Regions from separate parts of the Homo sapiens genome. Here region 2 is linked to region 1. Evidence: fine-mapped expression QTL. Tissue or cell type: whole blood. Region 1 holds a variant in brackets; the other region holds the start of a gene. All regions are shown on one strand. Distances are from middle to middle.

What was found. PIP is the estimated chance that this variant, and not a neighbour inherited with it, causes the effect.
Region 2: IL4R starts here. The variant in region 1 is fine-mapped to the expression of IL4R in whole blood (TOPMed, PIP above 0.99).

Annotation. Positions count from the first base shown.
Region 1 is chr16:27,270,333-27,278,080 of GRCh38, reverse strand. All of the region lies in intron 1 of NSMCE1-DT (NSMCE1 divergent transcript), which reads right to left. Among named protein-coding and RNA genes, the nearest start is that of NSMCE1, 5.4 kb to the right of the region's middle. RefSeq lists an enhancer at 5,879-6,427. The variant C/A (reference allele first, on the strand shown) is at 3,589.
Region 2 is chr16:27,309,302-27,317,049 of GRCh38, reverse strand. It overlaps IL4R (interleukin 4 receptor), which reads right to left and starts at 3,076. Exons shown (of 11, transcript NM_000418.4): 1 at 3,030-3,076. RefSeq lists silencers at 2,336-2,385, 2,826-3,035, 3,056-3,355 and enhancers at 3,133-3,863, 4,686-5,885.

The sequences.
Region 1 (7,748 bases):
ATTGTCTTGGCCTCCCAAAGTGCTGGGATTACAGGCATGAGCCACTGCACCTGGCTTGAACTTAAAATTTCATGAATCCAAAAATTATGTATTTATCACACTGCTGAGCTTTATAAAAAAAGAAACAAAAATGATGTAGTATACAAATGCTGATGAAAACGACTCTGAAAAGGGCTTGACCTGGGCTGTGAAAAACCCGGTCTCTAGTCTCCATTCTCTTCTCCATTCATTGCTATGTACTTTTCAAAAATACACTTTTAATTCTTTTTTCATATTTTCACTCCTATCAGAAATTTGTTTTCAAATACAGAAAAGTAAAAGTGAAAAAAATGACAGTTGTCCATTTTTCTACCATCCAACATTAACCACTGTTAACATTTTGGCATATTTGACTTTAACGCCTTTTTAAAGCCAATATTTGAAAAATTAAATTTTCAAATCTTTTCAATCCTTAAATTCATTGCTATATGAATACATAGTTTTATTATTTTAGTTCACAATTAGAATACTCCAGGCTGGGAGCGGTGGCTCACGCCTATAATCCCACTTTCGGAGGCTGAGGTGGGCGGATTACTTGAGGTCAGGAGTTCAAGACCAGCCTGGCCAACATGAGGAAACCCCGTCTCCACTAAAAATACAAAAATTAGCTGGGTGTGGTGGCGTGCACCTGTAGTCCCAGCTACTTGGGAGGCTGAGGCAGGAGAATCGCTTGAACCTAGGAGGCAGAGGTTGCAGTGAGCCAAGATCGCGTCACTGCACTCCAGCATGGGTGACAGAACAAGACTCCAGCTCAAAATAAATGAATAGAAATAAAATTAGAATATTCCAGATAAACCTCAAGATCTTTATTCTCTTCTCCCATCCCAATCTTCCTTTCCCCTTCCTAGAGGCCCTCTAGCTTGAGCTTTATAACAATCTTTTCAATCCTTAAATAGAAAATAGTTTTATATGCATATGCTTATCTACTGGCAAATTATAATATTGCCATTTTGCACTGCTCCAAATTTGCATAAATGGTGATCTTGCTGTATCATCTTTATATCTTGCTTTTCCCCCACTCTATCTATGCTTTCAGGATTCATTCATGTAGACACTTGTGAGTTAATTCATTCCTTTTCATGTTATATGACCACCCGTGGTACATGACTATCTTGCTTTTTGATTTCCTTATTAATGGCTCTTTAGGACGTTTCATTTTTTCCCACCACATTGTTGCAGCAAATCTCAAGCACACATGGGAGATTTTCTTCAGTTAAATTCCTAGAAGTGGAATTGCTAGATAAGCTTTTTCAATTTCAGTAACACCAAATAGCTCTCCAGAGGGGCTATATACAACATTTATAACCCCACCATATACGTACAATACTGGTCTTTCTTTACCCTTGACCACATTTTGTCATTCTTATAGGGAAAAAGTTGGTTTCCTTTTCTTGTTTTATTTCCAACTAATAGTGAGGTTAAACATCTTTCCATATATATTTATATTTAAATGTATATTTTATATTTATATTTAAATATATATTTTATAAATATACATATATATAAATATATATATATATATATTTTAATATGGAGTCTAGCTCCATCACCCAGGCTGGAGTGCAGTGGTGTGATCTTGGCTCAATGCAACCTCTGCCTCCCAGGTTCAAGTGATTCTCCCACCTCAGCCTCCCAAGTAGCTGGGACTACAGGTGCCTGCCACCATGCCCAGCTAATTTTTGTATTTTTAGGAGAGATGGGGTTTCACCATGTTGGCCAGGCTTGTCTCGAACTCCTGACCTCAAGTGATCCACCCGCCTCAGCCTCCCAAAATCCTGGGATTACAGGCATGAGCTATTGCACCTGGTCCCCACATATTTTTTGGCCATGTGAATTTTCTCTTTTGGAAGAGATATTCTTTTGATACACTGGTAGACTGAATTTTTTTCAATACATATTTGTAATATAGATGAGCCTGACATTTTCTTTAATTTTGCTGTTCTCTTTTTGGTGTCAAAATTAAACTAGTCTCAGAATGTGTTGAATAGCTTTCTCTATCTTGTTCATATTCCAGTGAATTTTGCATAATATAGTCTTTTTGTGTGTGCTGATCACTCCAGTAAAACTTACTTGTTCTGGACATCTTAGGAGGTGAAGCATATCCTATATTTCTAGTTCGATTTCATTAGTGATTATTACTTTTAATGGCAAAAACCTCAATTACTTTTGCACCAACCTAACACTTTTCTTCTTGGGTCAAGTTTTGTAATTTTTATTTTTGTTAAAATTACCTTTTTTCTAATTTTTCAAATGTATTGGCATAAAGTTTGTGGTATACTTTTGTGCTTTCTAAAATTTTTACTCTAGCTGGTATGTTCAGTTTGCCATTTATCGTATTGTTTGTATGATTTTCTTGATCAATCTTACATGAAGTTTTTCTATTTTATTAGTCATTAAGAGAACACCAGCTTTTGGCTTCTATAATCAACTTCATTTTCTTTTGTTCTTTGTTTTACTCATTTCTGCTTTTTCATTCTTATTTCCTTCCTTCTGCTTTCTCTGGGTTTCTGTAGTTGTTATTTTTCTAACTTTTAACAATTAACTCCCTTACATTTTTTCTTATTTTGTAAGAAGTATAAAGCTATAAGTCCCCCTCTAATTATTATTATTATTATTATTATTTTTATTTTGAGATGGAGTCTTGCTCTGTCACCCAGGCTGGAGCGCAGTGGCGTGATCTCAGGTCACTGCAGCCTCCGCCTCCAGGGTTCAAGCGGTTCTCCTGCCTCAGCCTGCTGATTACCTGGGATTACATGCATCCACCACCATGCCCGGCTAATTTTTGTATTTTTAGTAGGGACGGGGTTTTGTCATGTTGGCCAGGCTGGTCTCGAACTCCTGATCTCAGGTGATCTGCCCACCTCAGGCTCCCAAAGTGCTGGGATTACAGGCGTGAACCCCGTGCCCAGCTAATTATTTAGTTGGATCCCACATGTTTTATGATGTCAGGTTTTCATTGTCATTTATTTCCAAATATTTTATAATTTCCATATTGGTTTTCTTTTTAATCTGAATGTTTTCAGTTTCTAAACATGTGTTCTTTTTCTTTTAAAAATGTATGATAAAATCTTTCAACATATAAAAAATATAATACCTGTGTACATGGTCCTGTACTCAACACCTCACTTAAGAAATAAAACTCGAATATATGCTTATAATTTTTAATTTTAATTTTAATTTTTATTTTTTTGAGACAGAGCTTTGCTCTTGTTGCCCAGGCTGGAGTACAATGGCACGATCTTGGCTCACTGCAACCTCTGCCTCCTGGGTTCAAGGAATTCTCCTGCCTCAACCTCCTGAGTAGCTGGGATTACAGGCACTCACCACCATGCCTGGCTGATTTTTTTGTATTTTCAGTAGAGATGCGGTTTCATCATGTTGTCCAGGCTGGTCTCAAACTCCTGACCTCAGGTGATCCACCTGCCTTGGCCTCCCAAAGTGCAGGGGTTACAGGCGTGAGCCAGTGCGTCCGCCCAATTTTTAATTTTTAAAAATTCGTAAGTAATAGATGTACGTGGTTAAAAAAAAAAGTTCATTCTGACTTCCTGG[C/A]CCCTTCCTCAGAAGCAGCTGCAGTTACTAATTTAAGGTGTATTGTATCTACACCTTTTTGGCTCTCTTTTTGTTGTTGATGTTTAATTTTACCACATTGCGGTTTGTGAATGTGGTCTATAGATTCTTTGGAATTCATTTAAGCTTCCTTTGTGGCCCAGTACATAGTCAATTTCTGTAAAGAATAGATATACCAAAGTTTTTTTTTCTAAAATACAAGCCTGATCTCATCACTTACTTTTCATAAGCTTCTGTGGTCTTCGGGTGAAAGACCAACACCCTCAGCATATTATTTCCCGAAGCTTCCTCTCTAGCCAAGGCCTTGGCCCTCGCCTTGTGGTCAACAAATTTATGTACTCATAGCTCTCATGCATTTTAGGGTCAGCTTTGAGAAGTCTGAACCATCAGAGCTGTCCAGGAATAGAGAGTCCAAAGTCTGGCACTTCAAAGGCCCAATAAATACTCACAGAGCCCACTAGGGAATGAGCCGTCCTCTGAGTCATACTGAGGCAGGACTGTCACCCCATGGGGGACCACTCTGCATGATGAACTTCGATCCTTACTCACTACTTGTTCCTGCTGAACGAGATTCACCTCATAGAGGCCTCTGATTGCTGTACTGCTTCCATTTTAATTTGTCAGCACTTTCCCTTCTTTTTATTTTTGCCAGATCCATAGTGGATCACTTGACAGTAGCATTCTCCCGTCACTTGGCCTTCTATGAATCAGTTGCTTAACCCCAGCTAAGGCCCACTTCAGTATGAATCCAGGCTGAGCTTCTGCTCTGAAGCCCCCAGGATGGGGATGGGGGTGTTGAGGGAGGGATCAGATAACCAACTGTCATCTCTACACATTTCTGGTTTCAACCTCAGCTAGGAACTCATCTCTGCATTGTCGTCAGCGTCTCTTCCAAACCTTTTGATCCATTCCCCTTAAATCCCTTAGCATCTCCTCAGCACCTCCCAACCTTTTTTTGGGATAGGCTGGTGTGCAGTGGCACCATCCCTCAACCTTAACCTCAACTGTAGCCTCAACCTCCTGGGCTCTACCTCCCAGGCTCAAGCCATCCTCCCACCTCAACCTCTCAAGTAGCTGGGACTACAGACACATGCCACCACACTCGGCTAATTTTTAATTTTTTTTTTGTAGAGACGAGGTCTTGCTGTGTTGCCCAGGCTGGTCTCGAACTCCTGATCTCAAGCAATCCTCCCACCTCAGCCTCCCAAAGTGCTGGGATTACAAGTGTGAGCCACCACGCCAGGCCCTCTTCAGCCAAAGATTGATACTGTTTGCTACCTTACGGAGAAAACGGAAAACATCAGGAGTGAGCTTTTTTTAGCCACTTTCACCTCTTTTCCTGCTGTTTCAGAAGTGTCTCTTCTCTTCTCTAGGTTAACAGTAATCCTGTCGCTATACACCTTTGACCCCATCCCTTTTTGTCTGTTTTTTTTTTGGTGTTTTTTTTTTTTTTTTTAAGACAGAGTCTTGCTCTGTTGCCCAGGCTGGGGTGCACTGGCACAGTCTCGGCTCACTGCAACCTCCACCTCCTGGGTTCAAGACATTCTCCTGCCTCAGCGTCCAGAGTAGCTGGGACTACAGGTGTGCGCCACTACGCCCGGCTAATTTTTTGTATTTTTAGTAGAGATGGGGTCTCACTATGTTGGCCAGGCTAGTCTCAAATTCTTTTTTTTTTTTTTTTTGAGATGGAATCTCACTCTGTCACCCAGGCTGGAGTACAGTGGCTCGATCTCAGCTCACAGCAACCTCTGCCTCCTGGGTTTAAGTGATTCTTCTGCCTCAGCCTCCCAAGTAGCTGGGCCTACAGGCACGCACCACCATGCCCAGCTAATTTTTGTATTTTTAGTAGAGACAGGGTGTTACCATATTGGCCAGGCTGGTCTCGAACTCCTGACCTCATGATCCACCCGCCTCGGCCTGCCAAAGTGCTGGGATTACAGACGTGAGCCACCGCACCCGGCTGCCTGTTTTTATTTTATGGATTATTATCTCTGCTCCTATGTCTTCAAGTCTTCCCTTCTGAAGCCATACTTCCCAAAAGAGCAGTCAGCATTCCCTCTCCACTTCCTCAACTTCCACTCTTCACTCTTGGAGTTCGATCTGGCTTCCTCCCCTCTCTATTAAGATGGCCTTTGTTGGCCATCAAATTCTAAATCAGTGGCGCATCTTACTCGACCTCTCCAGAGCATTGACGATTCTGACCACACCCTCCTTCTCAAAAGTCTGTATTCCTATGTGCCTCTGATGCCACTTTCACAGCATGTGGTTCATGAATGTCACCTATAGATTCTTGAGAATTTCTTGAAGCTTCCTTTGTGGCCCAGTAATCAATTTCTGTAAATGTTCCAAGCATGTTTGAAAAGAATAGATATACCCAAGTTCTTTTTCTAAAATACAAACCTTCTCTCATTTCTTCCTGGTCTTCCATCACTTCTATGGTCTTCAAGTGAAAGACCAACCCCCTCAGTCTTGAATCTTTCTTTTCTTTCTACCTTTTTTTCTTGACGCTTTGATCTTGAAATGCTGGTGTTCCCAGCGTTTTCTATTCTTTTATCTCTCCACACACCAGGGAAGCACATGCTTCACAAAAGGGGACGGTCTCTCCCAAGTTCTGAACAAGTGCTGCCATGGGGGAAGGCTGGCCCACTGTCGTCAGACTTCCCCACTTTTCCAGAGCAGTCAGCTACAGTAGGGTTTTATGTGAAATGTCCCAAGTTTATTTATTTATTTTTGAGACAGAGTCTGGCTCTGTCACACAGGCTGGAGTGCAGTGATGCAATCTCAGCTCACTGCAACCTCTTCCTCCTTGGCTCAAGCTGTCCTCCCACCTCAGCCTCTTGAGTAGCTGGGACCACAGGTGTTCACCACCATGCCTGGCTAATTTTTGCGTGTGTGTGTGTGTGTGTGTGTGTGTGCGCGCGCGCGTATATATTTTTTTTGTAGAGATGGGGGCCTCACCATGTTGGCCATGGCTGATCTCAAACTTCTGAGCTCAAGCCATCCTCCCAGCTGGGCCTCCCAAAGTGTTGGAATTACAGGAATGAGCCATCATGCCCAGTCAAAGATTGAAAACCCCAACTTTAAATATTGATAATGAATAGAAAATTTCACAAAACCATGTAGGGCAAACAAAACACAAATATTACTCCTTAGGGCTTTATTTCCCCTCTTATTTGACTACCTATTAGGCAGTTTATAAAGAACTTATTAGTGGTGTTAGTTCACACTTATTGAGGGCTTACAATGTGCCAGAGACACTCTTCTAAGTAGTTTACGTTTACTCTTCCTTTAATCTTCAGAATAACATTATCAACAAAGTGTTATTATTAAACCTGCTTTATAGATGAGCAAACTGAAGCTGAAAACTTGAGCTCAGTCATCCCTTAGTATCTGTGAGGGATTGGTACCTTAGTCCCCATGGATACCAAAATTCTCGATGCTCAAGTCCCTTATGTAAAATCAAAACCACCTTTGTAAAAAGCATAACTGAGAAAATTATGATAGTGAAAGAGATCTGGCCTGACTCCATCTTGCTTCTAACTTCCAAGCTGTCCTTGATCATTCCTGGACATAGGTGGAATTAATGTTGGAAAGAACTTAGTTTATAGTTTAACTTTGAAACAAAGGCAATAATAGCCCTTTCCCAAAACAAATCCCCTCCTTGCCTAGGAACGGGTCTGCCTTTGTAGACTAACAAATTAGCTAAAAGATTAGAAATTATGGTTTAGGAGGTCACGCAAGCTGGAGGCTACAAGATTCTGACCCTCCCCAGATTGCTTCCGGGAGTAACATCACTGTTCTAAAACCTAAAATCAGTGCTTGAGATATTTTGCAGAACCCGTGTTCTAATGCACCAGCTGACGCCACCCAGCCCTGTAATCTGGCTAATCTGGTCCTATGGTCCTAACCCAGGATCTGACTCAGTGCAAGAGGACAGCTTTGACTCCTTTCCTCTCTGATCCAACCTATCAACACTCTCTAATCCCCAGCACCTCCAGCCACCAAATTATCCTTGAAAACCCTGAATTTCCAGGGAGACTGATTTGAGTAATAATAAAACTGTGGTCTCCTGTTCAGCCAGCTCTGTGTGAATTAAACTTTCTCTATTGCAATTCCCCTGTCTTGATAAATTGGTTCTGTCT
Region 2 (7,748 bases), 39 kb before region 1:
CACCTGTAGTCCCAGCTACTCAGGAGGCTGAGGTGGAAGGATTACTTGAACCCAGGTATTGGATGCTACAGTGAGCTATGATTGTGCCACTGTGCTCCAGCCTGGGAAATAGAGAGAGACCATGGCTCTAAAAAAAAAAAAAAGGTATTCATTTAACAAATACATAGTTTGTACTACATACCAGGTACTGTTTTGTATGCTTGACATATATTAACTCATTTAGTCATCACTACAATGGCATAGTCACTATAATCTCATAAATGCAGAAACTGAGGCTCTGGGAAGTCAGTTACACAGTAAGCAGCAAAGCCAGCATTTGCACTGGGTGATCTGGCTCAAGTCCATACTGTCACTCCCCAGCTATACGTTTTGACAGGTAACAACAGACATATACATTGATTGTGGACCCACTGGGTGTTGGACATTGTGTGAAGTAGCTTATAAAACATGTCATCAACCCTCAAGAAAGTTCACTTTTACAAATGTGAGGAAGAACAGTACTTAGGCGGCTTCTGTCCTGGCCTCACTCCCAGGTACCAGTGAGGGCAGTCGAGAGGTGGGGCATCTAATCCCAAACGCTCTCCTCCATCGTCCCAGATGGGGTGGGTGGAAGAGGGCAGGGAGATGGGGGAGGTAGAAAAGGTTCTCTCTTCTCATGTATTTATGTATTTGTTTATTTTGAGACAGAGTCTCGCTCTGTCACCCAGGCTACAGTGCAGTGGCACAATCATAGTTCACTGCAGCCTTGACCACCTGGGCTCAAGCCATCCTCCCACCTCAGCCTCCCAAATAGCTGGGGCTAGAGGCACCTGCTACCACGCCTGGCTAAGTTTTTAAATTTTTTTTGTAGGAACAGGATCTCACTATGTTGCCCAGGCTGGTCTCAAACTCCTGGGTTCAAGCGATCCTCTCTCAGCCTCCCAAAGTGCTGGGATTACAGGTGTGAGTCACTGCGCCCAGCTTGTCACTTCTTTGACAATTCATTTCAGCTCCTTTTTGAACTGGGAGCATTAGAAAACTGAACACCCCCACCCTTGCCCTGGGCATTTTGCAACCGGGATTGTATTGTATTAAACATATCAGTCATTGAGTCACTTCCTAGCATTTGGAAACCCTTAGGTTATCTCGGACCTGCCGGTAACTGCATGTGTTGTAAATGGGGTGAGTGACTGCAGGTTTTCCTCCCTGCTGCCTCCCCAGCGTCTCCCTCCAGATTCAGATCCAGAGGCCCAGGGTGGGGCCCAGGAATCTGCATTGTTGCTTTTACAACTCAAGCCAAGGTGAATACACTGGCCCAAGTTCCTTGGCATGGCATTCAAGGCTTTCCACAATGCAGCCCAGCCCAACTTTCCATCCATCTCTGGCTTCTGCTTACTCCCTAGGTTCTGTACACAGTGCCCTTTCACACTTCCCAGCCTCCGCCCACTCTGTGCCTCCCTTTACCTCCCATCCTCTACCTGCCAGACTCCCCTGCTCTACTCACAAGGCTAGCTCAGGGTCCCTGGGTGCTGGGAAGCCTGGCCCAGTGACCTTTGAAGAGCTGATCCCCTCTGGCTTGTGGTCCTGCAGCCGCTGGTGCATCCGCACCCTCCCAGCCCTCACGTCTGTCTTCCTGCAGAGGGGGTGCTCCTTGAGGCAAGCACCAGTGCCCAGAACACCACCCAGGGCCTCGCAGGAGCTGAATGAGTGCTAGTGAGTGAATGAGTGGCTTAGCAGGTCACCTCCCATTCATGGGCTGGGCTAGCCGAGTTCTAAGAAACCCCTGCAGGACCCTGGAATGCCCTAATGTGCAGGACACCCTGGCCAAACCTACACCTGAGCCTGTTTCCCCATTGGACTTTGGGATTTTGATAAAGGCACTGAGGTCCCAGCAAATGCCTTGGGCTCCTCATAGGCTACTGGGGGCAGGGAAGTGCAGTGGGTCATGCCTCCCAGAGGGCTGGGGAAGGGGAGAGACTAGAACTGGAGCAGGGTTAGCGCTGGCCTGGGGGCATTCCTTGAACCCCAGAAGCAGACAAACTAGTGGTCCCCTATCTTGCTTAAGTCTAAGAAATCCAGATTTTGTTTAAAAAAAAAATCAGGGCTCAGTGGCTCACACCTGTCATCCCAGCATTTTGGGAGGCCGAGGTGGGAGGATCACTTGAGGCCAGCCTGGACAACATAGTGAGACACCATCTTTATAAAATAAATTTTTAAAAATAAAATAAAGATCAGATTCCTGGGTTTACTGAATCTGAATCTCAGGGCAAGGACCTGGGAATCTGCATTTTAAGCAAATCTCCCGGAGATTCTGGTTATTGTGGGGGCTCCTCAAACGTGATTGAGAGATGGAGAGCAGCTGGCTCTGGCGTGGGATTGCCTGGGCTCTAGTCCTGCTGCCCCACGGACTCCCAAGTGGGCGGCACCTTAGGGCAAGTTACTAAAGCGGCTGGGGTCTTGGTGACCTCATCTGTACAATGTCCATGACGCACAGCACCGGCCACAGAGAAGTTAGTGGGAGGTTTCACTTGGCATCCTTTCAGTAAAACAAGTCCCAGTCAATGATCGCGATTATTGGGTCCATCTGATATTCGGAGGCGGAGACCGCCCCGATTCACTGACCTACTACTCAAATTTACAGTTCTCAGAACTTTCCCCACCCTTTCTCTCTCCGAAGTCCTCACTGACTTCCTGAGCGCAGGGCTGGGCGCCACTGCCCGGAGAAGAGGGGCTGCGTGGCCTCCGACAGCCTAACCCCAAGCCCCCCACCCCCGCAGGCCGTCCCGGCGGAGGTCTCACTGCCAGCACCGGCTTTGGGGAGCGCTGGGTGTCCACGTACCCCGGGCCTCGCGCCTCCGCTGCCGTTCGGCGGCAAGGACGGAACCGGGCGCTGCTCCGCGCGCACCGAGAGTCGCGGGCTCGGGCCCCGCTCGGAGTCGGGGTGGTCCCCGTGGTCCCCGCCGGCGGCCGAGCCCTTCCCGAACGCCCTCAGCCGGCGTGCCCGGGCGATACCTTCGCAACCCGATCCGCGCGCGGGCCCCGGATCCTACCTGCGCGCCCCTGCTCCATTCGCCGTCCGGGCGCCCAAGCGGGAAGTGGGGGACCCCTGGGTGGCCCTTCCCTGGCCCGCGCCGCGCGGGGCTTTCCTGGGCGCGGAGACCCAGCCCGCCCCGGCTTCCTGCTCCCCGCCCCGGCGCCCGGCAGATTTGCATGCGCCGCCCCGCCCGGCGCGCCCGGCCCGGGTCCCGGCCACCTCGCGCCCCTGTCGCTGTCCCCGCCGCCGCCGCCGGACAGTCCGAGCCGCCGTCCTCTCCTGGGGGCGACCCCAGCACCTCGCTGGGTGTCTTGCCGCGCGCTTCCTCCCACGCCGTAGCCCGAGGTCACGCCCAGCGGAGAACTCTGCAGTGGATCCCCTTGGTCTCGGAATAAAACGCCCACGCCGACCAGGCCTCCAGGACCTGCTCCTGCCTGGCCTCCGCGGCCTCTTTTGCGCCGGGGCAGTTGCGTTTGGTGGGGGAGGGCTGGGCGACTGGAATCCTCCTCCCCTTCCTAACAGCCCGGCTTCCAAGTGAGAGTGGTTGCACATTCTTCAATAAATGTTTACCCAACTCCTACTCCAGCCACATTTGGATAGTAAAACAGCCCTTCAATCAGTAACTAGTACAATCTGTCGGGCACTGCAAATGTTAACTCGTTCAATCCTGGCAACTACCCTATAAGGGAGTGATACTATCACCGGTTTTACAAATCAGGAAACTGAGGCACAGAGTCCTTAAGAAATTCAAAATGGGTTGGGCAAAGTGGCTCATGCCTGTAATCCCAGCACTTTGGGAAGCTGAGGCGGGAGGATCACTTGAACCCCATAGTTCGAGACCAGCCTGGGCAACCCTGTTAGCGAGACCCCTATCTACAAAAATTGACATTTATAAAATTTTAAAAAAGAAAAGAAAGAAACTCAGAATCACTCTGCAGGTAAGCAGGAGCAGGGGTGGAGCTGGGATTCGAACACAGGCCCCATAGACCATTAACGTCTGGACACCATAAGAACCCGGATGCAGCCAGATGACTGGGGGGAAAACACTCAACAAAGTATTTCAGGTCAGGAGGGCCCAAGAAGAAAGTAGGGACCTCTTAGACCAGTGGGGCAGGTGGTCTGGAAGAGGCTTTTTGAGTAGAGGCCATTTGAGCTGAGACTCTGAAGAGCCTATGGGGGAAGACTTGTGTAGGGAGAGGGAAGAGCTAGTGCAAAGGCCCTGTGGGAACCAGCTCAGCCTGCAGGAGGAATTGCTGAAGGCCGGCATGGCTGTGGAGCCCTGAGTGAGGAAAGAGCGGAGACAGGGGAGGTGGGAGATATTTGGACTCACACTGGGCAGTGCTGAGAACCCAGAGAGTAATTTGACCCCCTGCTGCCCTCAAGGAGCTCTCAGTTTGAGGGTGGAAGCCAAGGACTGCCCAATGGGATCAAGTGCTGTGGTGGAGGGTGAGGGTTGGCTTCCCAGGGCAGGGGCCACTGCACGTCAATCATTCTTTTTTTTTTTTTGAAGATGGGGTCTCATTCCATTGCCTAGGCTGGAGTGCAGTGGGTGATCTCAGCTCACTGCAACCTCCACTTCCTGAGTTCAAGCAATTCTCCTGCCTCAGCCTCCTGAGTAGCTGGAATTACAAGCGTGCACCACCACGTCCGGCTCATTTTTGTATTTTTAGTAGACATGAGGTTTCACTATGTTGGCCAGGCTGGTATCAAACTCCTGACCTCAGGTGATCTGCCTGCCTCTGCCTCCCGAAGTGCTGGGATTACAGGTGTGAGCCACCACGCCTGGCCCATATGTCAATCATTCTTTCATGTACTTGGTCTGTCTTGGTCCTACTGTGTGTCTAACCTTGTGACAAGCGCTGATGACGCAGACCTGAAGACATGAAACAGACACAATCCCTGCCCTCTGAGACCTTACAACCAAGTGAGCAAGACAGCCACCAACCCACCCCCGGAAGTGACAGTAAAGATAAGTCAGTTCCCTGGGGTCAGGGATGGCTTCCTGGAGGAGGTGACCTCTGACCAGTGCCTGAATCAATGCAGAAAAACATGCAGGTGGAAGGGACAGCATGAGCAAATACCTGGAGGTGGCGTGGGAGTGTGGAAAAACTCCCATCCTTCGGCATCTGTTTGTGGATGCCTCCATATGCCAAGTCGTGAGCTGGGGGCTAGGGAGAGCAAGAAATAGATCCAGCCCCTGCTTCCTAGCCCTGAGGACCTGGTTGGGGCACTGACAAGTGAGCAGACGTAAGCAATTGAAGTGAACAGATGTAAGCAATTGAGTGTAATAAACCCCGTACTGGGGGCAGCCCAGGCAGACGCTAAGAGGACTAGGGAGAGAAGGCCACAGGAAGGGCTTTCCTGGAAGCTTGGGTTTCAGGAGGAATAGGAATCCTCTGGATTAGGTGTGACTTCCACTCCCGTCCACACTCATACTCCCTCACACTCATTACTCACACATCCGCACACCCACACGGTTGATGCTTCATCCCAGGCAGTTCAGCCCTGCAAGCTGCCTTTGTCCTGTCTGTGTTTCTGAGTTTGTGCCCCATGTCATCGGGAGACGACAGCAAAAGTCTACCTTTGAAGTCCTTTGGGAATGTATGGCTTGGGCTATATCCCCTCCTGGACTCCCAAACTGGGCTCCCATCCTGTTTTCCCAGTCAAGTCATCCTTCGTCGGTTTCCTCGCTTGCCTCTAGACTGCCGGCATTGGCATACCAACTCTGCTACGTATTGACTATGTGACTTTGGGCAAAGTAGATCATCCTCCCTGTGCTTCAGTTTCCCCATCTGTAAAATGGGGATAATAATAGACCCACCTCATAGGGCTATGAAATGGTGAAATGGCAAGGTACGTATCGCAGTGCCTAGAATAGTGCCTGGCGTGGATTAGGCATTCAAAATGTCAATTGCTGTTCTTATCAGGATGAAAATGAGAAAGAAGCAAAGTCGAAGCCTGTTGCCTTGGTCTGTTGCTTGGTTGTGAAATGGAGATGAACGTGGCATTGAGAAGACAGGCAAAGAAAGCACAGCTGTGGTCAGAGGCTAAGACATTCAGGAAATCTGGGGGAAGAGACTTCGGGAATTCTTTGTACTCTTCTCCCAACTTTCCCGCCAGTCTGAAATTATGTCAAATTACAAAGTTAAAGAAAACAGGGCATTGTTCTCGGGTGCAAGAGAGATAATAAATGTCTTCTTGCATACAGTCCCACTGTTCAAGTTCCTGCCCAAGATGCCCAGACTTTATCTGTGACTGCTCCGTCAGTCCTGGGAGCAGGTCCAAAGGCACCAAGATAGTAAAACCTCTGTTCCCCCATCTAGGGGTTCCCAAGTCTTGCCTCAGTATAAGCTCAATCCTCATTATATCCTAACACGCTTACTTGTTTCCAAGCCTTTCGGTCTTTAAAACTAATAGAGTTTATTTTTTAGAACCATTGTAGATTATGGAAAAATTGAGCCGATAGTACTGAGAGTTCCCATACATCCCTCTCCCCCATGCAAAATTTCCTCTTTTATCAACATCTTGCATTAGTGTGTAGTGCCTTCCTTATAATGCTGATACATTATTATAAACTAAAGTCCATAGCATACATTGTTTCACTGTTTCTCGGGGTTTTGTTTTGTTTTGTTTTGTTTTGTGTTTGTTTGCTTGTTTGGAAACAAGGTCTCACTCTGTTGCCCAGGCTGGAGCAGCCTGGAACTCCTGGACTCAGGGGATCCTCCTGCTTCTGCCTTCTGAGTAGCTTGGGCTACAAGAACATGCCACCACACTAGGCTTTTTTTTTTTTATACTTTTAGAGACAGTCTTGCTACATTGCCCAAGCTGGTCTCAGACTCCTAAGCTGAAGTTATCCTTCCATCTCAGCCTCCTAAAGTGCTGGGATTACAAGCATGAGCCACTGTGCCTAACCTCTGCAGCACAGTTCTGAGTCTTTTTTTTTTCTTTGAGACAGAGTCTTGTTCTGTCACCCAGGCTGGGGTACAGTGGCGTGATCTCAACTCACTGCAACCTGTGCCTCCCAGGTTCAAGCGATTCTCACTCCTCAGCCTTCCAAGTAGCTGGGACTACAGGTGCACGCCTGGCTAATTTTTGTATTTTTAGTAGAGACGGAGTTTCCCCATACTGGCCAAGCTGGTTTTGAACTCCTGACCTCAAGTGATCCACCAGCCTCGGCCTCCCAAAGTGTTGGGATTACAGGCATGAGCCAATGCACCCAGCCAAGTTCTGGGTCTTAACAATGTATAATGCCATGGATCCACACATGTAGCAACAAAAAGAATAGTTTCCCAGCCTGGGCAACATAGCAAGACCCGGTCTCTACCAAAAAACACAAACAAACAACAACAACAAAAAACAGGCCAGGCATGGTGGTGCACTGTAGTCCCAGCTACTCAGAGGCTGAGGCAGGAGGATCCCTTGAGCCCAGGAGTTCGAGGCTGCAGTGAACTATGATCATGCCACTGCACTCCAGCCTGGGCAACAGAATGAGACCCTGTCTCTAAAAAAAAAAAGAAAAAAATAAAGAATAGTTTTACTTCCCTAAAAATCCCCAATTCTCTACCTATTCTTCCTGGATTCTGGAAACCACTGATTTTTTTACTGTCTCCATAGTTTTGCCTTTTTCAGAATGTCACGTAATTGAAATCAGAAAGTATGTAGTCTCTTAATACTGACTTCTTTTACTTAGCAATATGCTTTTCAGGTTCCTCAATGTCTTTTCCAGGCTTCACAC